Regions from separate parts of the Homo sapiens genome. Here regions 1 and 2 are each linked to region 3. The links come from fine-mapping of genetic effects on gene expression. A gene starts in region 3. Each other region holds a variant in brackets. All regions are shown on one strand. Distances are between the middles of the regions.

Region 1 (8,174 bases), 33 kb after region 3:
TAATATTCTTGTTAACTGTCTATATATTTTCCTTTTTAACTATTTGAAAGTTCTTCTTCCTTTTGGGGGTTTTTTGAGACAGGGTCTCACTGTCGCCCAGGCTGGAGTGCAATAGTGTGGTCCTGGCTCACTTTAGCCGTAATCTCCTGGGCTCAAGTGATCCTCTCACCTCAGCCTCCTGAGTAGCTAGGACCACATGCATGTACCACCATGCCTGGCTAATTTTTTTTTTGTAGGGGTCTCACTACATTGCCCAGGCTGGCCTTGAACTCCTGGGCTCAAGCAGTCCTCCTACCTTGACCTCTCAAAGTGTTGGGATTATAGGTATGAGCCACTGCCTGTCATTCTTTTTTTTTTTTTTAAATCATATGGGAAGCTGTGTAACCCTGTCATTCATTTTGGCATATTTTGTGAATTCCAACGCACCTGGACCTTCTTGACTCTGCAAGCCTACCCAGAGAAAGGGTCCTAAAATAGGGCTGAACAATTTTGTGGTCCGTTTGTGTAGGACAGTTTCCTTAACCTCACAGCCTTTGTCTGATTATTCCGGCTTTATTTTAACCATTAACAGAAATGTGGATCTGAGAGAATACTTGTCTGAAGAAGTACAAGCAGTACACAAGAATACCACCTATGACCTCATTGCCAACATCGTGCATGACGGCAAGCCCTCCGAGGGCTCCTACCGGATCCACGTGCTTCATCATGTGAGTGGCTGCTGACCGTCTCATGGCACAGAGTGGCAAAAACAGGTGTTTCTTTGGCATCTCAGAGGGCAGCTCCCTTCAGTGTGTCCTTGCTTGGCCTTGGCTTTGGGACTCTGCAAGTAATAGTGCTGTCAGTAGTTAGTTTAAGGCAGTGGTTCTCAATTTTGGCTACACATTGGACTCACCTTGGGAGCTTTTTTTTTTTTTTTTTGAGACAGGGTCTCGCTCTGTAGCCCAGGCTGGAGTGCAGTGGCGTGATCTTGGCTCACTGCAACCTCCGCCTCCTGGGTTCAAGCAGTTCTCTGCCTCAGCCTCCCGAATAGCTGGGATTATGGGATTACAGGCGCCCATCACCACGCCCGGCTAATTTTTGTATTTTTAGTAGAGACGGGGTTTTACGATCTTGGCCAGGCCAGTCTTGAACTCCTGACCTTGTGATCCACCCACCTCGGCCTCCCAAAGTGTTGGGATTACAGGCGTGAGCCACCGCGCCAACCGGGAGCTTTTTAAAATCCCAATGCCTGGCACCACACCAGGCCGGTTATAATAGTAGTTTTCAGCTGGGGCAGAGGCCAGGGATGTTGGTATATATTTTACAACACGAAGGACAGCCCGTGTTACAAAGAATTATCTGACCCTAAACATCAGTCAGCATTAAGGTTAAAGGCTCTCTGTTAGATTGTCTGGAGGTGGATGTCTTTTCTGTTTGATGTCTTTTCTATTTTTCAAGTTAATTGAGATGGGGTTGTGCTATGATGCTCATGCTGGTCTCAAGCAATCCTCCCGCCTCAGCTTCTGAAACTGCTGGGATTACAGGTATGAGCCACCATGCCTGGCTGGCATTTGATGTTTTGAAGTTCCCTGAGAGACCCTGATATGCAGCCAAGGTTGAGAACCTCTGCCCTAGACTAGAGCCTTACCATCCAAAGTGGGATGCATCCTTGGACCAATAACATCAGCATCAGTCTTGTTAGAAATCAGCTTGTTAGAAATGCAGACTCTCAGTCCCCTCAAACCTACCACATCAGAACCTGGATTTTAACGTGACCCTCTGATTTGTAAGAAATTAAAGTTTGCGAAGCACTGGTTTAGAGGCTCCCTTTCATCTTAAAAATGTTGTGGATTTGTCTCAAGTTGAAAACAGATAAAACATGTACTTGAGATATATTTGATATCACATAGATTATTAGCATAAATTGTTCTCATTTGATTAGCCTCTTCTGGAACTGTGGGTTTAATCTTAACTAGCTTCTGTTTATCAAGTGCTTTATTGTGGTTAGGCAGTACGCCAGTTACTTAATGTACATTAATCTCATTTCTTTCATTAAAACACACCTCCAAGACAGATGTCAGTATCATCTTTTTTACAGAGGAGGAGACCTAGGCTCAGAGTTTCAGTAATTGACCTCAAGTCAGTAGAATTAGGATTTGACCCAGGTACTCTGCTTCAAAGCCCATGTTCTTAACTCGTCCTTGAAGCAGGAATGGGAACTTACTTATGTGATCCTGAGCTTTCCTTATGTTTCCTATATTCTCAACTATTGTAATATCCAGAGGATCTGGAATATTTATATTCTACAATAATGGTCTTTGGTATTTCTTAGAACTTTGGTTGGATAAGACAGGTGGGCGGCCAGAGGTGCCTCTGCCTTAATCTAGAAACATTTTTTCCTTGTTCATGGAAGCATGAAGTGAGATACGTTTTGCTGTATTTGTAGCACTGGTTTCTTAGGCCAAAGGAATCAGGTTAGTGTGATAGACAGTGTCCACCAAGGACACCTTTTCTTGATGACCTGTTGCTTTTTTTTTTTTTTTTTTTTTTAAGACAGAGTCTCACCCTATCACCCAGGATGGAATGCAGTGGCATGATCTTGGCTCACTGCAACCTCCACCTCCTGGGTTCAAGTGATTCTCCTGCCTCAGCCTCCCAAGTAGCTGGGACCTACAGGCACCTGCCACCAGGCCTGGCTAATTTTTGTATTTTTGGTAGAGACGGGGTTTTACTGTGTTGGCCAGGCTGGTCTCAAACTCCTTACCTCAAGTGATCTGCCCACCTCGGCCTCCCAAAATGCTGGGATTACAGGCGTAAGCCCCTGTGCCCAGCCAGGAATGTCCATATTTAGGTTCTCTCAGTGGTTGACACTGTGTACCTCATAAGTGAGAATGTCTAGTCTGTCATTTCTGAGCAGGAAGGAGACATCATAGGTGATGATTAGATGGCTTCCTCTTTTCTCATCTTTAGTGTCCACTAAATTCCTTTTAAAAAGATGTACAGAAGTGTTTCAGACTCCATTGTACTTCAAGGGGCCAGGCGCAGTGGCTCATACCCATAATCCTAGCACTTTAGGAGGCTGAGGCGGGAGGATCTTTTGAGACCAGGAGTTAGCCTGGGCAACACAGTGGGACCCCATTGCTATTAAAAAAAAAATTAGCCAGTTTTAGTGGCACACACCTGTAGTTCCAGCTACCTGGGAGGCTGAGGGGAGGATCGCTTGAATCCAGAGGGTCAAGGCTGCAGTGAGCTGTGATTACACCACTGTAGTCCAGCCTGGGTGACAGAGTGAGACCCTGTCTCAAAAAAAAAAAAAAACAAAAAAACAACAAACAAAAAACAGTGCTTTAAAAAAATTCCCAACAGGAATTGAGTTTGCCATGATTGACACACCAAAAGTCCTATTAATTGAATCATGGCCAGAAGAAGTCATGTACCCTCTTCTTTATGACTGTTGCTGGATGATGTCTAGTGGCTGTTCTTCTAATTTTTCTAGTCTTGGCTATGATCCTTTCCTTCTACACCCTTTTGGTTTTAGAGAGCAGACTAACCCAGCTCTTCATACTTTCTGCAGGGGACAGGCAAATGGTATGAATTACAAGACCTCCAGGTGACTGACATCCTTCCCCAGATGATCACACTGTCAGAGGCTTACATTCAGGTGGGTTGGCCACAGGCTTAGTGAGCCACAAATAGGTGGCGTATGGGGCCAGTGAGAGGAGTGGGCCAAGGCAGGAAGAGGGATAGAGTTAGGACCTTGGTTGGAGGGCCAGGTACCTATTGGGAAGTACTTAGTAGTGAGTTGGGGGCAGAATGTATGGCCCTGAAAGTCAAGCAGAGATTTTCAGAAAAGAAGTATAAGGAAGTGTAGAAAATGTATGAGTGAGCAAAGAAAGTTGCGATTATGGCCAGGTTAGTTTTGCAGAAGTGTGCGGTCTGGTTTCGAGGAGGAAGAACCTAGACTCATCAGGGAGGCTGGCTAGAAGTCGACCACGAAGTGCTCCCCAGAGCCCCAGGCAGCTTTGTGACCCCACAGCGCTTTCTACTTGACGTTTGTTTTAGTGCCGGCCATATCGCTTTGCCTGTCTGTCCTCTCCATTGGATTGACCCATGGAGCACAGAGCATCTCTGTCTTCTCTTTATGTAACTGCCCTAGTACCTGGCAAAAGAAGGAAGATTGAGACAAAAGCCATAGCTTTGTAAGAAGAAAGTGATACCTCTCCTTCTAGAGATAACTTTTTTCTCCTCAGTGGCTGTAGCCACTGTAGCAGATTTCCAAATGGGGTATAGCAGATTTGTAAATGGGGTGACAAGTTGTCCATGGCCTGGCACAGAATAGGTATTTGATAAGTGTCTGTTGACTGAATGCCTCCTAGACTTCAGTTTGTGTTTTCATTTCTTACAGATTTGGAAGAGGCGAGATAATGATGAAACCAACCAGCAGGGGGCTTGAAGGAGGCGTCTAGGGCTTTGCTCCCAAGGGCTGTGGCTGATGATGGTAAATAAGAACACAGAAGCTGTAGCTGAACACAGGCTGGCTGGTGGGCTTCCTAGGCCAGCCCAGCTTGTATGGGTTCTGGCTACACCAGAGCACCAAGAGCCCACTTGCCTGGGATGGCCCCACACTGTCACTCAGCTGTTCTTTGATCATTTTTTTCTAGATTGATGCTCCTTTCTCCCATGCATTGAGCTCCCATCTAGCTTCAGCAGGGCAGAACCCTTCTCCAGATGTGTGTAACTTATGT[CT/C]TGAGTATCTGGGAGTAGTTGAAGAACAGATAATTCCTTCCAAACATCAAGCCTTGGGATTCTTGGAGCAAGCAGAAAGCCAGTAACTTCGCTCTGTTAGAGGTGGAGGATTTTCCTATGGTTCCCCCCATTTCCTGATTTGTATTTTTAGATGGATTAAATAGTCTCCTGTTTTTAAACCAGCCTCTTGTTTTATATCTTTTCCTTTGGTGGTTGGCTGAGGAAAATATTTTCCTTTTTAATCTTCACAAACTCTCTACCCTACAGTCTGACATCTGGTGCACATCACGCTCGCCCTTTCCTGTCAGCTTGTGGGTGGTGTGTCAGTTAGGATGCATTTGTTTCTAAGTAAAAAAATACCTGAGTCAAGGGGATACATTATTATTGTGCTTAACTAGAGGGCCAGAGGTGGGCAGTTTCCAGCTGCAGTGCAGGAATGAGTAAGGGAAGAGGAAAAAAAGGAAATAGGAAGCGCTTCTCACTACAGTGCAATTCTGAGGTGGTCTCAGCCAGTCCAGTGTGGAGCCCCAGGGCAAAGATTCCGTCAGACAATTCAGCAGAAATGGCTCCCATCAAGCTCAGTCGTGGGCTCTAGCAGCCTAGAAGAAGGGTGGCCTTGGCATGAGCACTGTGGCAGGTCCAAAGATATGGGAAGCAGCTGGAGGCAGCCAGTCAGCCCCAGCAAGTTCTGTTGAATGGAGACAGGAGCCCCGCACTCCTGTGGTGCCACCCTTTACCTGGTCACAACCTTGTCCTCACTTTCCTCTACCTCTCTGGAAGCTCCAGTATTTCCTTAGGAGGCTTATCTCTTCTATCCAGCCATTAAATTTGGGTTTTCTCAAGATTCAGTCCTAGCGTCACTCTTCTTGCTGTTTACTTTTTCCCTAGGCCATTTCAGCTATGCATTTTTATGGAAATGACTCATAAACACATCTTAATCCCAGATTTTTCTAAACTCTTGAACTTCGCTCTGTTGCCCAGGCTGGAATGCAGTGGCACAATCTTGGCTCACTGCAACCTCCACCTCCCAGGGTCAAGTGATTTCCGGCTAATTTTTTTATTTTATTTTATTTTATTTATTTTATTTTATTTTTTAATTTTAATTTTTATTTTAGAGATGGAGTCTTGCTCTGTCGCCCAGGCTAGAGTGCAGTGGCATGATCTCAGCTCACTGCAACCTCTGCCTCCTGGGTTCAAGTGATTCTCCTGCCTCAGCCTCCTGAATAGCTGGGATTATAGGCGACCACCACCGTGCCCAGCTAATTTTTGTATTTTTAGTAGAGACGGGGTTTCATCATGTTGGCCAGGCTGGTCTCGAACTCCTGACCTCAAGTGATCCACCCGCCTCGGCCTCCCAAAGTGTTGGGATTACAGGCGTGAGCCATGGTGCCCAGCCCTATTTTTGGGTGTTTTAAAGTAAACTCAAACTTAACATTGTTTAGAACTGAGCTTGCCAGGTGTGGTGGCTCCTGCCTGTAATCCTAACACTTCGGGAGGCTGAGGTGGAAGAATTGTTTGTGGCCAGGAGTTCAAGACCAGCCTGGCCAACATAGCAAGACCCTATTAGCCGGGCATGGTGGTGTGTGCCTGTAGTTCCACCTATCTGGGAGGCTGAGGCAGGAAGGTCCTTTGAGCGCAGGATTTGAGGCTGCAGTGAACCATGATTGCACCACTGCACTCCAGCCTGGGCAACAGAGCAAGACCTTGTCATTACAAAAAAGAAAAAAAATTGAGCTTGTGAGTTTCCCTTTTTTTTTTTTTGAGATGGAGTCTCACTCTTGTCCAGGCTGGAGTGCAGTGGTGTGATCTCAGCTCACTGCCGACCTCTGCCTCTCAGGCTCGAGTGATTCTCCTGCCACAGCCTTCCGAGTAGGTGGGACTACAGGTGTGCGCCCCACACCCGGCTAATTTTTGTATTTTTAGTAGAGATGGGGTTTCACCATGTTGGTCAGGCTGGTCTTGAACTCCTGACCTCAGGTGATCTGCTGACCTTGGCCTCCCAAAGTGTTGGGATTACAGGCATGAGCCACTGTGCCCTGCCATGAGTTTCTCTTTCAAACTTGGCTATTTTTGAGGTGAAGATTACACTATCCAGTTAGAGAAATTCATGTATAATAATCTGTTCAGGGAAAGTTTAATTTCAATAATTATTAACTACAACGGGTTTGTAGAAACGGGATTAGTTAGTAACAAGTAAAGTAAAGAATGTAGGAATAACAGATACAAAGAGCTGCCACTAGTTCTGGGGCTGACAGTGTCCAAAGCTGAGATCCAGACCTTGCTAAAAATATGCCCTCTGAACCTCGTTAAAAATCTGCTTTGTAGTGTACTCAGGAAAGCCATTCACAGGTGTCTCCCTGGAGGCCTCTGCTATAAAACTGTCCAGGGAGGAGAGTGCCAGGTGGAGCTACTGGGTGCCTGTGCTGCTCAAATGTATATGTGGTCTCCAAAAGCCAAGAAAAACCTATCAAACATTGTGCGTGCGTGCGTGCGTGTGTGTGTGTGTGGTGGTATGAGGTACAGCCACCTGTCTTGGAGAGGATATTTTGACATAACTCTATACTGTTGACTTCCGAGAAATGTCTCTGAGGTGGCAGGCCCCTGAATTGTTTGTTTGTTTGTTTGTTTTGTTTTTTTCTGAGAACGGAGTCTCGCTCTGTCGCCCAGGCTGGAGTGCAGTGGTGCGATCTCGGCTCACTGCAAGCTCCACCTCCCGGGTTCACGCCATTCTCCTGCCTCAGCCTCCTGAGTAGCTGGGACTACAGGCGCCTGCTACCACGCCTGGCTATTTTTTTGTATTTTTAGTAGAGACGGGGGTTCACCGTGTTATCCAGGATGGTCTCAATCTCCTGACCTCGTGATCCGCCCGCCTTGGCCTCCCAAAGTGCTGGGATTACAGGCGTGAGCCACCGTGCCTGGTTCCCTGACTTGTTTTTGGGTTTAACTCCCAACTTCTTATTTATGTCTTACTAAGGCATCTAAAGCGCTTGGTACTTTCTGCTCATCAGATCCAACAGCATAGTGTCATCACTGTAGTGGACTAGTGTGATATTTTGTGGATTGTCAAGATGATCAAGATCTCTGTGAACTGTATTATGCTAGAGAGCAGAACTGACATAGTCCTGAGGTAACACTGTGAAGGTATACTGTTGGCCCTGCCAGGTAAAAGCAAACTACTTCTGGTGATCCTTATAAATTGGTATGGAGAAATACCAATTTGATTCTAACTTGGTAGCTCCATACCAAGTGCCAAGAGCTGTTGTGTATGAGTAAAGATGCTACATCTGGCCCCAGGCGTGGTAGCTTACAGATGTAATCCCAGCAGTTTGGGAAGCCAAGGCAGGAGGATTGCTTGAGCCCAGGAGTTCAAGACCAGCCTGGGCAACAAAGTGAGACCCCATCCCTCAAAAAAAAAAAATTAGCCAGGAGTGGTGGCATGCACCTGTGGT
Region 2 (8,174 bases), 21 kb before region 3:
CCTACAGTGGTTTGCCTGACCTCTCTTGAAGCAGGTTGCTTTTCTAGCTCATGGGTAAATATTGACCTATTTGGGTTTCAAATGCCTGCCCCTCGAAACTCATGCAGGGCTAGAAAAACATGCTGGGAGAACATCTCTTGAGAATAAGAATTGCTTTTGGTTAGGCTGTATCGTAATTGGCCCACTCACTGATTCCTTGCTTGCAATGGTCAGCACTGTGCTGGCCTCCCGGTGGGATGGTGGTGGACAAAGGCAGGGCACTGCTCCCTGCCCTCCCTCTGGGAGTTTGTGGTCCAGCTGGGGAGATAGGACTCATACAGTGGGAATTCTTGGAGGCTGTATACCAAGCAGCTGCAAGGATCCTGAAGGAGGATTCTTGGCTGAGTGGGAGGTAGCCCTCTGTGACCACCAGATCTCTTCTAACACTTAAGTTTTCTGGTTTTAAGTGGAATTCAGTCAAGTGCCAAAATGTCTGTTGTAGACAATGGGTGACGTGGGCTGGCAGGAAAAGAAGCTTGCCCTTCTTGTAAGGAGGGGAAGGGAACAGGGATGGGCTGTGGGGAAGTAGGCTAAGAGGAAGGAGTTTCTGTGGTTTGCTAATCCACTGGTATTCATCTCCCTGAAATGTCCCTGCTCCTAGGCTTCTGGCTTATACCAGGGCCTCCTGCCTGGTGTCTCTCTCTGTTACGTGCACCCAAAGCCCAGTGCCTTTCTTGCACATGACCCAGACTTTCTCTCTCCCCTGTCATTTCAACCTTCCCCAGCTTGGATCCAAGACCTCCCTTCCCAGTCCTCTGAAATGAGCTGGTGTTTTCTGTTAGGCAAAGCTGCCCCCCAGGCTGGGAAATCCAAGAGTTAGTCTCATCTCTGTAAGTTGGACCCCAGTGAGGACCCCAGCTGAGTGGAAGGCTGGAGGCCAAAAACCGGTACCACTGAGGTTCCCAGACGGAGAGGGAAGTTGGAGCAGTGATATAGGGAGCAGGATCAGGCCAGGAGGCAGAACTGGCCTGACCAGTCAGAGGCCCAAAGAGGAAGATCTGAGCTTCTCAGTTTGGGGATAGAGGGGTTAGGCAGAGACTATGATGTGTGCTGCTTCAAAATTACCTTTCTAGCCTGTAGGGTAGGTCTCCTCCCTGTGTGTTCCAGCCAGGTAGCTTGGTTACCCATTCTTTGCTGCCTTCTTAGGCCAGTGGGAAACCTTAGGGCAGCTGTGCATTGATTGGGTAGACGCCATTCTGGAGCAGGTGAGAAAAGAATCAGCTTTGTGGGAGGGTGGGGTCCTGGGAAGATCCCACCTTGGGACAGCTTAGAGGAAGCTGAGGTGCTGGAAGCCGGGACTTACCTAGGTCCTAGGCCCTGCCTTGACGTGCAAGGGGAGGAGCCTGTGAGACTTAAGGTGTGCCGCACTCACCCCGAAGGCCAGACCTTCACTCCGCACACATCATACCCTTACACGAAGGATGCTGTTACTCTCATGCTGTACCCACCTACAGGGGGAGAAGGAGGCTTCTAGATCTCAGGGGCAGATGAGGGCCAGGTGGGGGCCTCATGCAGCCCTGACCTCGGGCTTGGTGTCCAGGCAGGAATAGAGTTGGAGCGGTGCCAGCAGCAGGCGAACGAGGTGACGGAAATTATGCGTAACAACTTCGGCAAGGTCCTGGAGCGTGGTGTGAAGCTGGCCGAACTGCAGCAGCGTTCAGACCAACTCCTGGATATGGTGTGAGGCCTGGGGGAGCATGGAGGGGAGGGGAGAGGATTGGGAAAGTCTCTCTTGGGCTGTATTCAGGATCTCCAGTTCCTTGGTGGGGTTGAGGCCTTCTTGAGGGCCAGTGTGGGGCCTCTGGGTTTCCTCAGGCACCCATAGCCTAGACATGCAACAGATAGACCCCACAAGATAAGAAGGCCTTGGTTTGAAGCTGTGGACCTTCTTAAAGGTAGAAAACTGGTATCGTTTTTTGTTTCTTTTTTACTTTGAGACAGAGTCTCACTCTGTCGCCCAGGCTAGTACAGTGGCACAATCATATTTGCTGCAGCCTCTACCTCCCAGGCTTAAGTGATCCTCCTGCCTCAGCCTCCTGAAGAGCTAGGACTACAAGCCTGCACCACCATGCCTGTCTAATTTTTGATTTTTTGTAGAGATGAGGTCTCACCATGTTGCCCAGGCTGGTCTTGAACTCCTGGATCCAAGAGATCCTCCCACCTTGGCTTTCCAATGTGCTGGGATTACAGGCATGAGCCACTGTGTCCAGCCTGAGTACTGGCATTGTTAACTGAGGGTGAGACACTAGGGCTGAAAGTCAAGGGCCACACCGGTGTTTGAGATGAGTCAGGCTGGGAGGGTTCCACGGCAGGTGGTATAGAAAGAGAGCAGACAAGGCCGGGCGCGGTGTCTCACGCCTGTAATCCCAACACTTTGGGAGGCCGAGGTGGGCAGATCACAAGGTCAGGAGTTCAAGACTATCCTAGCCAGTATGGTGAAACCCCATCTCAACTAAAAATACAAAAATTAGCCGGGCGCAGTGGTGTGCACCTGTAGTCCCAGCTACTAGGGAGGCTGAGACAGGAGAATTGCTTGAACCCGGGAGGCAGAGGTTGCAGTGAGCTGAGATTGTGCCACTGTACTCCAGCCTGGGTGACAGGGAGAGACTCCTTCTCAAAAAAAAAAAAAAAAGAAAGAAAGTAGACAAGATGGGGAGGATGCAGGAGGAGACTAAGCCTTACTGAGATGGGGTTGGGAGGAGCTGGCTCCCAGGCCAAGAGGGTGCCAGCTAACTCCCACTTTGTGTCTGGGGGTATCCGCAGAGCTCAACCTTCAACAAGACTACACAGAACCTGGCCCAGAAGAAGTGCTGGGAGAACATCCGTTACCGGATCTGCGTGGGGCTGGTGGTGGTTGGTGTCCTGCTCATCATCCTGATTGTGCTGCTGGTCGTCTTTCTCCCTCAGAGCAGTGACAGCAGTAGTGCCCCACGGACCCAGGATGCAGGCATTGCCTCAGGGCCTGGGAACTGACCCAGCTGGTCCTGAAGGAGAAGCCAAATGGCTGCACTGGCCGATTCTGGTCTCCAGAGGACCTTGGTGTTTGCTCTCCCTTGACCCACCCC[A/G]GTGAGTGCCAAAGGGCAGCCCCAACATGTGCACCCCTGCATTTCCTGTCATGCCACAGACTGGCCCTTGAGGGCAGCCTGCTGTACTGGCCATGCTGGGCCAGCCCCACCTGGAGCTCAGTAAAAACTGCTGTTTGATTAAAAGCTGGTATCTGTGTGTGAAGGTCCCCAGGTTGGTTAATCCCATCTGTCTCTACCCCTAGGGCTGCTTAAAAAGCCCATCACCCAAAGGACTCCACCCCTGGGAGATGGCTCCTTCCTCTCCCTTCCCTACTTGATCCAGCCCGACACAGACAGGGAGTGTGGATGCAAGAACACAATGGCCCCCAAAGCAGACCCTTGAACCAGTCCTCCCCATCTGAGCCTGTTTCTCTGAGAATGAAATCTATTATTTTTCTGTCATCTTGGGGATGCTTAGAGGACCAATGAGACTGTAGATGCGATGACAAAGAAGAAAGCACTTCACCAATTTTTTTTTTTTTTTTTTGAGACAGAGTTTTTGCTCTGTTGCTCAGGCTGGAGTGCAATGGCACTATCTCAGCTCACTGCAAACTCCACCTCCTGGGTTCAAGCAATTCTCCTGCCTCAGCCTCCCAAGTAGCTGGGATTACAGGTGCCCACCATCACACCTGGCTAATTTTTGTATTTTTAGTAGAGACAAGGTTTCACCATGTTGGCCAAGCTGGTCTTGAACTCTTCACCTCAGGTGATCCACCTGCCTCGGCCTTCCGAAGTGCTAGAATTGCAGGCATGAGCCACCGCGCCTGGCCCAAAAAATTTTTCATAAGGCTCTCACCTTCAGATAAATGGTTTCCCCTCTGAACACTTCCCACTCCTCAATTTCTCTTTCCACATTCTATCTACCTCAAGCTTTACATCAGACTGCAGATGGGGGAAGTGACAGCAAGAGATGGGGACCTTAAAGCACTCCTTGGTATTCCCATCTCCCTCCCTCCCTTCCTTCCTTTTTCGACGGGGTCTCTCCTGTGTCTTCTCTCCCTCCCTCTTTCGACGGGGTCTATGTTGCCGAGGCTGGTCTCGAACTCCTGGGCTCAAGCAATTCTCTTGCCTTTAGTGCTGGGATTGCAGGCGTGAGCCACCATGTCCAGCCTGAATTCAGGCTTTTCAAAGCTACAGGGCCATATAGGCCAGGGAGGCAGTGCCTTCAGGGCCATAGCAAAGATCATTGGGCAAAGGCATGGAAGAAGGAAATAAAGCCACACCAAGACTGTGGAAACAGGGCAGCCTCTGCCTGGGCTACTTAGCTGCAGTTCAAACTCAGGTGTGAGTGGCAAGGGGAATTCAGGGTCAAGTGTGTAAAATAAGCAGTTCCTTGCTGGGTAAAGTGAGCGCTACTGACAGAAACCAGAATAAGCCTGAGTTGTGTGGAGCTTCACCCCTTACAGAGCGTGTTAGTTTTACTGAGCGCATTAGCGTCTTCCTCTCTTGGGAAAGATGGAGGAAAGCACTTGGCCCTGCAGCTGGTCTGCAACACCACTTACAGACTGCAAATTTGGGCAAGCCACTTCTGAGGTAAAAAGGGCATAATGACGCTTAGCTCCTGGGTCTATTGAGGGGATGATCGAGCGTGTAAAACATACATCAGACTAACAGTTCTAGATGCTAAATAGTACCTATCATCCAAATCATTGAGTGCAGTGGTTCTTAAACCTGCTTCACCTGCATAATTTATACAAGTGCCATTGCCCAGGCCCCACCACAGATCAGTTAAATCAGAATCTTCGAAGGTATCAGACACGGGTGTTTCTAAAGCTCCTCCGCGCCCATTCTCTCCTCTGGGAATTCATGTGTAGCCAGGAATGAAAAGGTCTTAGTACAAGCCAGCAGTTTTACAGAAGCTAGGGATAGCAACGGGCTGAAGGTAACAGTCCCATGAGCTGGTTGAGGCCCCAGGTTCTCCGGCAAAGAGATCTCTCTCAGTTGGGGAGGCTTGCCCCACCCTTTATTATTATGCCTAACACATAAGAAATGCGCAGGAATCAAACGCAAACTGGTGAACCAACTAGAGGGCCGCGGGGGCAGAAGTGTCCGGCGGGGATCCGGACAGCGCATCCGGAAGCGCCATGGGCCAACGCTCGCAGGAACCTGAACCCCTGGGCCAGCGCCGCCTTTGCTCGCAGAGGCCTCTAGCATCTGTACTGTCGAAGCCCTCTGAGCTTCAGGGCAGACTGAAGAGCCTTACACACCAGACACTTGGACGCGATCGCGCCAGAAATCCCCGGGAATTCAGTCTTGGCTCCGACTCCAAAACAAATGATTCCTCACCAGCCAGATCTCCATCATTGGCGTTAGTCTCTGGTCACCTGACTTGTTCAAGCCAATGAGAGGGGGCCGAATTAGTACTTCCGCTTTCCGTGCTGTTTAACGAGCCACTATGCCCGTCCCTCGGATACTCTGATTGGCCAGCCTCTCTCAGCTCGTCAGTTTATTGGCCAGCGCCGCTAGGCCGCTATCGAGCAGGGTCCGAGGGCTGTGTCAGAAGGCTGGGCAGCCATGGCGTCCTATTTCGATGAACACGACTGCGAGCCGTCGGACCCTGAGCAGGAGACGCGAACCAACATGCTGCTGGAGCTCGCAAGGTGGGTGCGCGGGGCTTGGGGATAGGGTCCAACCAGCAGGTTTCTGGGCTGGGGCTGGCTGGAGAAGGCGGATTACCAGGGGCAGCGGATTCTGGGGAGGACAGATGAGTAATCTGGAGTGTTAGTACGGGCGGCGAGACTGAGGGGTGTGGGGATGAGCATCTCGATAATTTGGGCCGTCCGTTGGGCCGGCCTGGGGCAAGGGGATTGCGGGAAAGATTGGAGCTGGAGAGTGGTGGGCGTGGGGGCGGAAGGACAGCAGGCTCTGGGAGGTCTCAGAGAAGGTGAGGCATGGGGGCGGGGTTGGGGCCGTGTGCTGTGAGTGGGTATATTCATCAGTAACAGCAGGCACTGCTGTTACTGGACCTGGAATCTGGCTTGGTCTTGGAATCTGGGCTCTACCAGGTTATTCAGCGTAGCCTGAGTAACTTCTCTGAATCTGTTGCCTCATGTGTAAAATGGGAATAAACACTTTACGTGCTGGGGCGGTCTGATAGCAGTTGTAAACTATTTCCCATCGTGCTTTTTATCTAGTGAGCATCTACTAACTACTAAGGGTAGCTATTATTCCTACTAGCTGGGCAGCGTGTTTATTAATGTCCAGTGGATTATGGGGACAAAGAAAAAGCATAGTTTTCCTTTGTTCTGACTTTACATCCCCTTCCCCAGGTCACTTTTCAATAGGATGGACTTTGAAGACTTGGGGTTGGTAGTAGATTGGGACCACCACCTGCCTCCACCAGCTGCCAAGACTGTGGTTGAGAACCTCCCCAGGACAGTCATCAGAGGCTCTCAGGCTGGTGAGGACACTGATTCTTTCTGCTATTTGGGCCAGACCCACCCCTTCCCCAAGCCAGACTGTGGTCTGGTCCTTCAGTTTTCCAGGTCAGGTGGGGGCAAGTGTCCTTCAGGAGTGGGAGCTTGGGAGGCAGAGCCTGTAGCAGCTCTCCTGATCAGCACTCCTTCCTAAAGAGCTCAAGTGCCCCGTGTGTCTTTTGGAATTTGAGGAGGAGGAGACTGCCATTGAGATGCCTTGCCATCACCTTTTCCATTCCAGCTGCATTCTGCCCTGGCTAAGCAAGGTACTGCTTCTCTTCTTCTAGCTCTCACCGTGCCCTGGGCCCAGTACTCAAGCTTCTTTCTGTTCATGGACTGCTGGGGGATGGAAGAAGAGTGGCAGTTGGGAGCAGGGGAGGGTGGTTATCAGCTTATGAAGATCAGACCAAGGCTAGAACACTACTCTACTTTTCTCAGACAAATTCCTGTCCCTTGTGCCGCTATGAGCTGCCCACTGATGACGACACTTATGAGGAGCACAGACGAGATAAGGTAGGGGCTGATGCTTAAGTGGAGGGGTCGTAATGGGCTCCCTGAGTCCTGTCCCCGCTGCCATCACTTCCCACCTCAGCAGGACTGGGTAGGCCTCAGAATCCCTGGCTCTGGCTGTCTTCTTAGTGACTTTGATTTGTGGTGAGAGCCTCAGCAATGCAGACGCCAGAGGCCTGAAAACAGAGCCAGCCCCATAATAGCTGCCCATCCCCTCACCCATAGGCCTTCAGTTTTGGCCCCTGCCCAGCATGCCTTCTTTCCTTCAGGCTCGAAAACAGCAGCAGCAACACCGACTGGAGAACCTCCATGGAGCCATGTACACGTGAGGAGGTTGGGGCTGAGTGCTGGCCCTCTGCGTCTTCCTTATTAACCTTGAATCCTCATTAAAGGTTTCTTTACCCACCCTGAGGCTGTATTGATCACAGACCTGGCCAGGGGCTCTGCATCCTCCATCAGGTCTCTACTTCTGTTGGGGAAGGTGATCCTAAATCGCAGAAGGCACCAGGCTGCGGTTTTCCTCCCTGCTGGCCCATCTGGACTCATGGCAGTGGTAAAGAACTGGATTACTGCAATAGCCAGGGCTTGGGCCTATGTGTTCATGGTTGGAAGGCAAAATGTGTCAGGGTCTGGTACCCAGTTAATTACTTAAAGCTGATAAACTAGGCTGGGTGCAGTGGCTCATGTCTGTAATGCCAGCAGTTTGGGAGGCCAAGACAGGTGGATCACGAGGTCAGGAGTTCGAGACCTTCCTGACCAACATGGTGAAACCCCGTTTCTACTAAAAATACAAACATTAGCTGGGCATGGTGGCACGCACCTGTAATCCCAGCTACTTGGGAGGCTGAGGCAGGAGAATTGCTTGAACCTGGGAGGCAGAAGTTGCAGTGAGCTGAGATCATGCCATTGCACTCTAGCCTGGGCAACAAGAGCAAAACTCCGTCTCAAAAAAAAAAAAAAAAAAAGCTGATAAACTAGCCTGCACCCTCCTCCCACTGCAATGTCTAGTTAACTTTGTAATCCCACAGGTTTTCTTTTTGCTCCATTGAGAAAGCCACTTTTAATATTTTAAAGTTGCTCTCTGTACCACCCCCACCTTCCCCCCATGCCTCCTAAGGAATCAAAGTTCAAACCAGACTCTGAG
Region 3 (8,174 bases):
CTCTAGGTAGCAGAGAAGCTGGGGAAAGGCCATTTACTGGGTTCATTCCGCAATTATGTGCTGGTCGCTCATCGCTGTGCCAGACTTTCTCTTTGCTAGGTAGCGGAGCACCTTACTAAAATACAGCACGGTGGGGCAAACCGGCAGATAAACTTCTTGCTGGCTCCCCGATACTCTGACAGCGATGCTTAACTGGGGGCTTATGAGTCGTCCCAGTTCTTGGTGAGAATCATTCAGCGGAGATTTGGGAGCGCTGAGGTGGAGGTTCCGGAAAGAGACGAGATGAGCTGAACCTTAGGAGTAAGAAGTGGTTTTTCCCTATAGAGAAGGGGAGTGCGTTGCAGGAAGAGCGCGCGGGCTGGAGGCAGGCGGGGCGGGCGGCCTCACCTCGGTGTCGCGGCAGGTACACCTGCAGGTCTGGCTTGCGGGGCCGCGTCGGCGCGGGCGTGTGCCGCCTCCTCACCTTCTCCTTGGCCGCCTGCTTCACCTTCTTGTCATAGTCGTCCCTGCGGGGAGCCGAGCGGGAGTCAGGGACTGTCGGGCCGGGCCAGGCCAGGCCAGGAGTGGTGGCGGCGGCGGCGCAGGGCGGGGCGGTACCGAGCGATCTGGTTCCGTCGGATATGGTGCACGAAGCCGTGGTTCATGTCCAGCCGCCCCCCAGGCTTGCAGCAGTGCCCCGGCCGGGGATGCGGCCCCGCCTCCATCAGGAGCCGGGGACGCAGAGTCGCCGCCGCCTCGACGGCCCCAACAACAGCCACCCGCCCACAGAGCTCCGCGCCGCCCCTTGCTCAGCTTCCGGCCCCGCATCCTGACTTCCGGTCTGGGAGGCCCCGGCCTGGCCAAGCGATGCAGCGCACGGAGTTTTCGGGTCTGGTCGGGTCGGGTGGAGTAGGGTATGCTTGACTTCCACCCCCCGGACGGAGGGCTTTTGTTTTTGTTTTTTTTTGTTTGTTTTTTCGTAACATATCAATAGGAAACAAGGACTTCGGCTTACAGCTGATACCAGAACCTTCAGAAAAATGCAAATCATCTATAACACAACTCGATGCTTACGGCGGTGCCTTCCCATCTTTTTTCTGGTAATAGGATGCTGTGCAATCCATCGCCATCTGCGTGACTTTGGCTGACTGTGTAACGCTGCCACTTCTCAGTTTCCTCATTAGTAAATGGGAACACCTAGAGCACCTACCTCAAATGGATTGTGAGGCCTTGAAGTGCTCAGGCAGGGCAACAGCGGCGCCCAGGCCGCAGGCGCCGCGAAGGCTCTCCTGGCCCGGCTTGCCTCCTGCTCACGGCGCCGATGGCTTAACTGTCCCCGCGGGAGGACCCAGGGTTTTTGAGGGACCTACGGGTGTATTATTTTCTTTTTTATTTATTTTTCCTTTTTTTTTTCTTTTTGAGAAGGAGTCTCACTCTGTCGCTCAGGCTGGAGTGCATTGGCGTGATTTCGGCTCACTGCAACCTCCGCCTCCCGGGTTCAAGCGATTCTCCTGCCTCAGCCTCCCGAGTAGCTGGGACTACATGCGCGTGCCACCACGCCCGGCTAAGTTTTGTATTTTTGGTAGAGATAAGGTTTCACCACGTTGGCCAGGCTGGTCTCGAACTCCTGACCTCAGGTGATCCGCCTGCCTCGGCCTCCCAAAGTGTTGGGATTGCAGGCATGAGCCACCGTGCCCGGCCCCTTTTTTTTTTTTTTCTATTTTTTCTGACCACTGGGTTCACGTCACAGCGTGTAAAATTCTCAAGTCCTTTTACAAAAGTCAAAATCAGGAATTCATGATTAGGACAGGGACAAACGGCTGGATGCAGTGGCTCATGTCTGTAATTCCAAAACTTTGGGATGCCGAAGTGGGAGTATCGCTGGAGGGAGGAATTTGAGACCAGCCTGGGCAACACAGCGAGACATCGTCTCTACAAGAAAAAAATACATTAAAAAAGAAAGAAAGAGCCGGGCGTGGTGGCTCACGCCTGTAATCCCAGCACTTTGGGAGGCCCAGGCGGGCAGATCAAGAGGTCAGGAGTTCGAGACTAGCCTGGCCAAAATGGTGAAACCCCGTCTCTACTAAAAAAAAATACAAAAAATTAGCTGGGCTTGATGGCCGGTGCTTGTAATCCCAGCTACTTGGGAGGCTGAGGCAGGAGAATCGCTTGAACCCGGGAGGCGGAGGTTGCAGTCAGCCGAGATCGAGCCACTGCAGTCCAACCTCCAAATCAAAAAACAAAAAACAAAAACAAAAAACAGGGACCAATGGTGGTCCAGCCACACGATGGAATATTACTGAGCAATCCAAAGGAAGATCTGTAGCTCAACAACATGGATGGATCATAAAATAAATATGCCCAGTGAAAGAGGCCAGGGACTCTGTATGATTCCATTTATATGAGACTCTAGGAAGTGCAAACTAATCTATAGTGACCGAGAGATCAGTTGATTTTTGTGGGGGTTCTCTGGGAGGAAGAGGATATCTTTGGGGCTGGGTAGATTCTTTAAATTTTTTTTTATTTTTTTATTTTTTTGAGGCAGGATCTCACTGTCGCATAGGTTGGATTGTAGTGGTGCAATCACTGCTCACTGCAGCCTCCACCTCTCAGGCCCAAACGATCCTCCTGCCTCAGCCTCCTGAATAGCATGCCACCATGCCCAGCTAATTTTAAAATTTTTTTGTGGAGATGGGGGGGGTCTCTCTATGTTGCCAAGGCTAGTCTTGAACTCCTGACCTCAAGTGATCCTCCTGCCTCAGGCCTCCCAAAGTGCTGGGATTATAAGTGTGAGCCACCGTACTGGGCCCAGATCCCGTCTCTTGATTGTGGTGATGGCTTCATGGGTGTATATGTTACAGGAAAGGGATCCCTATTCAGACCCCAGCAGAGGGTTCTTGGATCTTGTGCAAGAAAGAATTCAGGGTGAGTCCACAGTGCAAAGTAAAAGCAAGTTTATTAAGAAAGTAAAGTAGCCAGGTGTCGCGGCTTATGCCTGTAATCCCTGCACTTTGGAAGGGGAGGCGGGCGGATCACTTGAGGTCAGCACTTCCATACCAGCCTGGCCAACATGGTGAAACTCTGTGCCTACTAAAAATACAAAAATTAGCCGGGCATGGTGGCAGGTGCATGTAATCCCAGCTACTCAGGAGTCTGAGGCAGGATAATCACTTGAACCCAGGAGGCAGAAGTTGCAGTGAGCCGAGATCTCACCAATGCACTCCAACCTGGGTGACAGAGCAAGACTCTGTATCAAAAAAATAAAATGTAAAGTAGTGAAAGTACAGCTACTCCATTGACAGAATAGGGCGTTCCTGAAAGTAAAAGGAGGAACGCATCCACCATGGCTACAATGCTTGTTTATATATAGGATAAAAAGATCATGGGGAGATGTGCTCTGCTACAAGGGTTTGTGATAAAGGATTAATTTTATTATTATATTTTGCAAGAAGAAATATTATCTTTAAAGCAAAATTAGGAATGCCTTTATTCTCCAGATATTGGGATATTAGGACACTCCCAAGTCTGGATCTGTTTAGTAAACATTATCTCTCTGTTCCCTTAACTGTAGACATCTCTAGGCTAGGAATACCTAACTTCCTGGGAATGCAGCCTGTCAAGGCCCAGCCTCATTTTCCTAACCCTCACTCAAGATGGAGTTGGTCTGGTTGAAACGCCTCTGACATATACCGCAAGTCAGAATTCAGTAAATTGCACACAGTGTGGTGTGGTGTGGTGTGGTGTGGTGTGGTGTGGTGTGGTGTGGTGTGGTGTGGGTATGACAGAGTTTCACTCTGGTTGCCCAGGCTGGAGTGCAATGGGGCGATCTCGGCTCATTGCAACCTCCGCCTCCCGGGTTCAAGCGATTCTCCTGCCTCAGCCTCCTAAGTAGCTGGGTTAACAGGCTCGTGCCACCACGCCCGGCTAATTTTTGTATTTTTAGTAGAGATGGGGTTTCACCATATTGGCCAGGCTGGTCTCCAGTCCTGACCTCAGGTGATCCGCCCGCCTTGGCCTCCCAAAGTGCTGGTATTATAGGCATGAGCCACAGCGCCTGGCCTAAATTGCACACTTTAAACATGTAGTTTGTTGTATGTCAATTATACCTCAATGGAACGGTTCAAACAAGCAAACAAGTTCAAGGCAGGTCCTGAGGTTAGAGCTTTATTAGCTTCATGGTAAATCTGCCTTTACCGGGCATTTGCGTTTTCATGGTACCAAGAACCTTCTAAAAGTAGAATTAGGGCTGTCAAGGGGATGATTTGGGAATGTCGCCTAGTTTTCCTGTGCAGGATTGTCAGCCCCCAAGCCGCGGAGACTGTGGGAAACGACCTCACGGTGGTGGTTTCGAGGCACAAATCTGGGGCCGAATGACAGCTTCTTTGTTTTTGAGACGGAGTTTCGCTCGTTGCCCAGGCTGGAGTGCAATGGCGCGATCTCGGCTCACCGCAACCTCCGCCTCCTGGGTTCAAGCGATTCTCCTGCCTTAGCCTCCCGAGTAGCTGGGATTACAGGCATGCGCCACAATGCCGGGCTAATTTTGTATTTTTAGTAGAGACGGGGTTTCTCCATGTTGGTCAGGTTGGTCTCGAACTCCCGACCTCAGGTGATCCACCCGCCTCGGCCTCCCAAAGTGCTGGGATTACAGGCGTAAGCCACCGCGCCCGGCCTGACAGCTTTTATCCAGAAAACTGTCGCCAGTAAAGGTTCCCGTCTCAGTAAACTGTAAACGACAGTAGGCCCACAGAAGGTTCTAAGGGGAGAGGAAGCCAGTGCAGGAACAGCACCGCCCACAAATTTTCTGCAGCGTGATTTGTCCCCAGTGGCGACTCGTAGAGAGTTCGGGGCTCGCTACCAGCCCCTCTCCTGATTGGCCTTGTGCCGCGCGCTCGAGCGTGCTTGGCGCCTGCGCTGGACGACTCGGCCGGTAGTGGAGATGTCCGGCCGGTCTAAGCGGGAGTCTCGCGGTTCCACTCGCGGGAAGCGAGAGTCTGAGTCGCGGGGCAGCTCCGGTCGCGTCAAGCGGGAGCGAGATCGGGAGCGGGAGCCTGAGGCGGCGAGCTCCCGGGGCAGCCCTGTGCGCGTGAAGCGGGAGTTCGAGCCGGCGAGCGCGCGCGAGGCCCCGGCTTCTGTTGTCCCGTTTGTGCGGGTGAAGCGGGAGCGCGAGGTCGATGAGGACTCGGAGCCTGAGCGGGAGGTGCGAGGTGCGCGGGGCCGGGCCGGGCTAGGCGCGAGAGCCTGTTTTTTTCGCGTCCTTTTTTCTTGTCTCTAATCTTCCGCTAGGTCACTGCGCCGGAGTTGGGGGAGGGGTGGGGTTGGGGTGGAGAAGAGGAGGGATCCAGACTCGACGATTCTGCTGTTCGACTTGTTCTGATGAAGACAGTACCCTTCTCAATAATCGTATAGTATTTCTTTTTTCTTTTTTTTTTTTTTTTTGAGATGGAGTCTCATTCTGTCACCCAGGATGGAGTGCAGTGGCGCGATCTCGGCTCACTGCAACCTCTGCCTCCCCGGTTCAAACGATTCTCCTACCTCCGCCTCCCAGGTAGCTGGGATTACAGGCGCCCACCACCGCTCCCGCCACCACGCCCGGCTAATTTTTTGTGTTTTTAGTAGAGAAGGGGGTTTCATCGTGTTAGCCAGGATGGTCTCGATCTCCTGACTTCGTGATCCGCCCGCCTCGGCCTCCCAAAGTGCTGGGATTACAGGCGTGAACCACCGTGCCCGGCCAAACGTATGGTATTTCTAACTGCAAAAATCGTAACAACAGCAGCTTCCCTTTATCGAATGCCCGATGTGGGGGCTCAGTGCTGATTTTACAAGTGTTACTTCCTTCCATTTTAAAAAAGAATTTTTTTTTTTTTTTTTGCGTTTTAAGAGAAGCAAGTCTCGCTATGTTGCCTAGGCTGGTCTCGAACTCCTGGACTCAAGTGTTCCACTCACCTCGGCCTCCCAAAGTGCTGGGTTTACAGGCGTGAGCCACCGTGCACGGCTTTCCTTCAGTTTTTACATCTAAGGTCTTGTAATTTCTGTAATCAAGATATTCAGAATGCTTGAGCAATAGGCACCTCTACTAAAGTATGGATTATGTAGCACTTTTTAAGCTGAATAAAGTCTGGAGACAATTTTCCATTAGTCTCTTGAGTTTGTGCACGTACTGCGACCATTGCCTGACTGCCTTTTCTCCTGGACTCTCGTTAAGGATGTTCGTGTAGTGAGCAGCCTTGGAAGATAGAAATGGTGTCTCCCTACAAAACGAGGAGACAAGGGCACAATCCCTTATAAAAGATTTGGGGCAGGGTGTGGTGGCTCACACCTGTAATCGCAGCTACTCTATAGGATGAGGTAGAGTTCAAGACTAGGATAGGCAACAGAGCGAGACCTCGTTTGAAAAAATGGTTAATGGTTCAGATTCTCTAAGCACGGGGTTCGTCTCCTGTAAGGCAGCTCACTGTGTGCATGGGTTCTCCTCACTTTGCCTTGTGGGAATTCACTTGGAAAACTGACACCAATGCTATATTCCGGCTACTGTCATTGCTCTAATAAACTGTCCTTTATTTCAGGCCAGGTAGTCACATGCTTTCCATCAGCATTCATAAAACTGTGACAGGCTAACTTGTTAGCTTGCGAGTAGGGTAAGATCTGAGACCCACTCAAGTTTTTGACAAGTGGTAGATTTATAGATACACATGTACATTCTTTTTTTTTTTTTTGAGACAGTTTCACTCTTGTTGTCCAGGCTGGAGTGCAATGGCACGATCTCAGCTCACTGCAACCTCTGCCTCCCAGGTTCAAGCAATTCTCCTGTCTCAGCCTCCCAAGTAGGCTGGGATTACACGTGCATGCCACCATGCCCGGCTAATTTTTGTATTTTTTAGTAGAGATGGGGTTTTATTATATTGGTCAGGCTGGCCTTGAACTCCTGACCTCAGGTGAGCCGCCTGCCTCTGCCTCCCAGAGTGCTGGGATTACAGGCATGAGCCACTCACCCAGCCACTCTTTAAACTACGTAGTACATTTGTGGCCGGGCGCAGTGGCTCACGCCTGTAATCCCAGCACTTTGGGAGGCCAAGGAGGGTGGATCGCAAGGTCAGGAGTTCGAGACCAGCCTGGCCAACATGGTGAAACCCCGTCTCTTCTAAAAGTATGAAAATTAGCTGGGTGTGGTGGCTTGTGCCTGTAGTCCCAGCTACTCGGGAGGCTGAGGCAGGAGAATTGCTTGAATCCGGGAGGCGGAGGTTGCTGTGAGCTGAGATCGCGCCATTGCACTCCAGCCTGGGGGACAGAGCGAGACTCCGTCTCAAAAAAAAAAAAACAAAAAAAAAACGAAACACACAACTATATGGTACATTTGTATTACAATTAGTTTATTTTAGTGCTTGTGACATATTTCATATTTTTCATGCTTTATGGGATTTCTTTATGTAAAATGCAAACAAATCTTCTGTTGATTTTATGTATACCAAATATATTCTCCCAGTTTGTGGCTTGTTCTATTAGTGGGCTTTTTTCTTTTCTTTTTTTTTTGAGAGGGAGTTTTGCTCTTGTCGCCCAGGCTGGAGTGCAGCGGTACGATCTCTGCTCACTGCAACCGCCTTCTCCCAGGTTCAAGCAATTATCCTGCCTCAACTTCCTGAATAGCTGGGATTACAGGCACCCACCACCATGCCTGGCTAATTTTTGTGTTTTTTGTAGAGACGGGGTTTCACCATAGTTGGCCAGGCTGGTCTTGAACTCCTGACCTCAGGTGATCCACCCATCTCGGTTTCCCAAAGTGCTGGGATTATAGGCATGAGCTACCGCGCCCGGCTAGTGGACTTTTTTTTCGATATTGTTGCCACCCAAACAATAGGAACTCATCTTGATTAGTTTTTCCCATTTCTGTTTCTTTTTTTGTTCTGTTAGTTGGCCCTGAGTATAGGTTTCCCATTTTCAAAGCCTGTGATGATTTTCCTTTCAGCAAAGAATGGCCGAGTGGATTCTGAGGACCGGAGGAGCCGCCACTGCCCGTACCTGGACACCATTAACAGGTCAGTAGGACAGAGATGCTGAGTATAGCACAAGAACAATGGAATCTGTGCAGAAAGTTTTTGGACTGTACAGTGAACAACACATTGACAAACTTTACTTTTTTTGAACCTGTCTAGAGAGTTGTGCTTCTTGCCATGTTACTCCTTATTCTTTGATTTAAAGTG

Evidence for each region.
Region 1: its variant is fine-mapped to the expression of USP39 in whole blood (TOPMed, PIP above 0.99).
Region 2: its variant is fine-mapped to the expression of USP39 in whole blood (INTERVAL, PIP 0.99).

What each region holds. Positions count from the first base shown.
Region 1 is chr2:85,644,377-85,652,550 of GRCh38, forward strand. USP39 (ubiquitin specific peptidase 39) reads left to right here. Exons shown (of 13, transcript NM_006590.4): 11 at 572-707; 12 at 3,554-3,640; 13 at 4,385-4,907. The coding sequence ends at 4,432. Among named protein-coding and RNA genes, the nearest start is that of SFTPB, 20 kb to the right of the region's middle. The variant CT/C (reference allele first, on the strand shown) is at 4,725.
Region 2 is chr2:85,590,146-85,598,319 of GRCh38, forward strand. It overlaps VAMP5 (vesicle associated membrane protein 5), which reads left to right. Exons shown (of 3, transcript NM_006634.3): 2 at 1,580-1,717; 3 at 2,803-3,261. The coding sequence ends at 3,012. RNF181 (ring finger protein 181) reads left to right here and starts at 5,600. Exons shown (of 5, transcript NM_016494.4): 1 at 5,600-5,704; 2 at 6,374-6,504; 3 at 6,677-6,786; 4 at 6,959-7,033; 5 at 7,300-7,563. The coding sequence starts at 5,619. The coding sequence ends at 7,359. RefSeq lists enhancers at 2,547-3,048, 3,049-3,548 and a silencer at 5,492-5,631. The variant A/G (reference allele first, on the strand shown) is at 3,105.
Region 3 is chr2:85,611,281-85,619,454 of GRCh38, forward strand. It overlaps USP39 (ubiquitin specific peptidase 39), which reads left to right and starts at 4,906. Exons shown (of 13, transcript NM_006590.4): 1 at 4,906-5,183; 2 at 7,940-8,009. The coding sequence starts at 4,916. It overlaps C2orf68 (chromosome 2 open reading frame 68), which reads right to left and starts at 786. Exons shown (of 4, transcript NM_001013649.4): 1 at 598-786; 2 at 388-506. The coding sequence starts at 704. RefSeq lists silencers at 557-938, 558-627, 1,114-1,286 and enhancers at 898-1,127, 4,570-4,619, 4,650-4,699.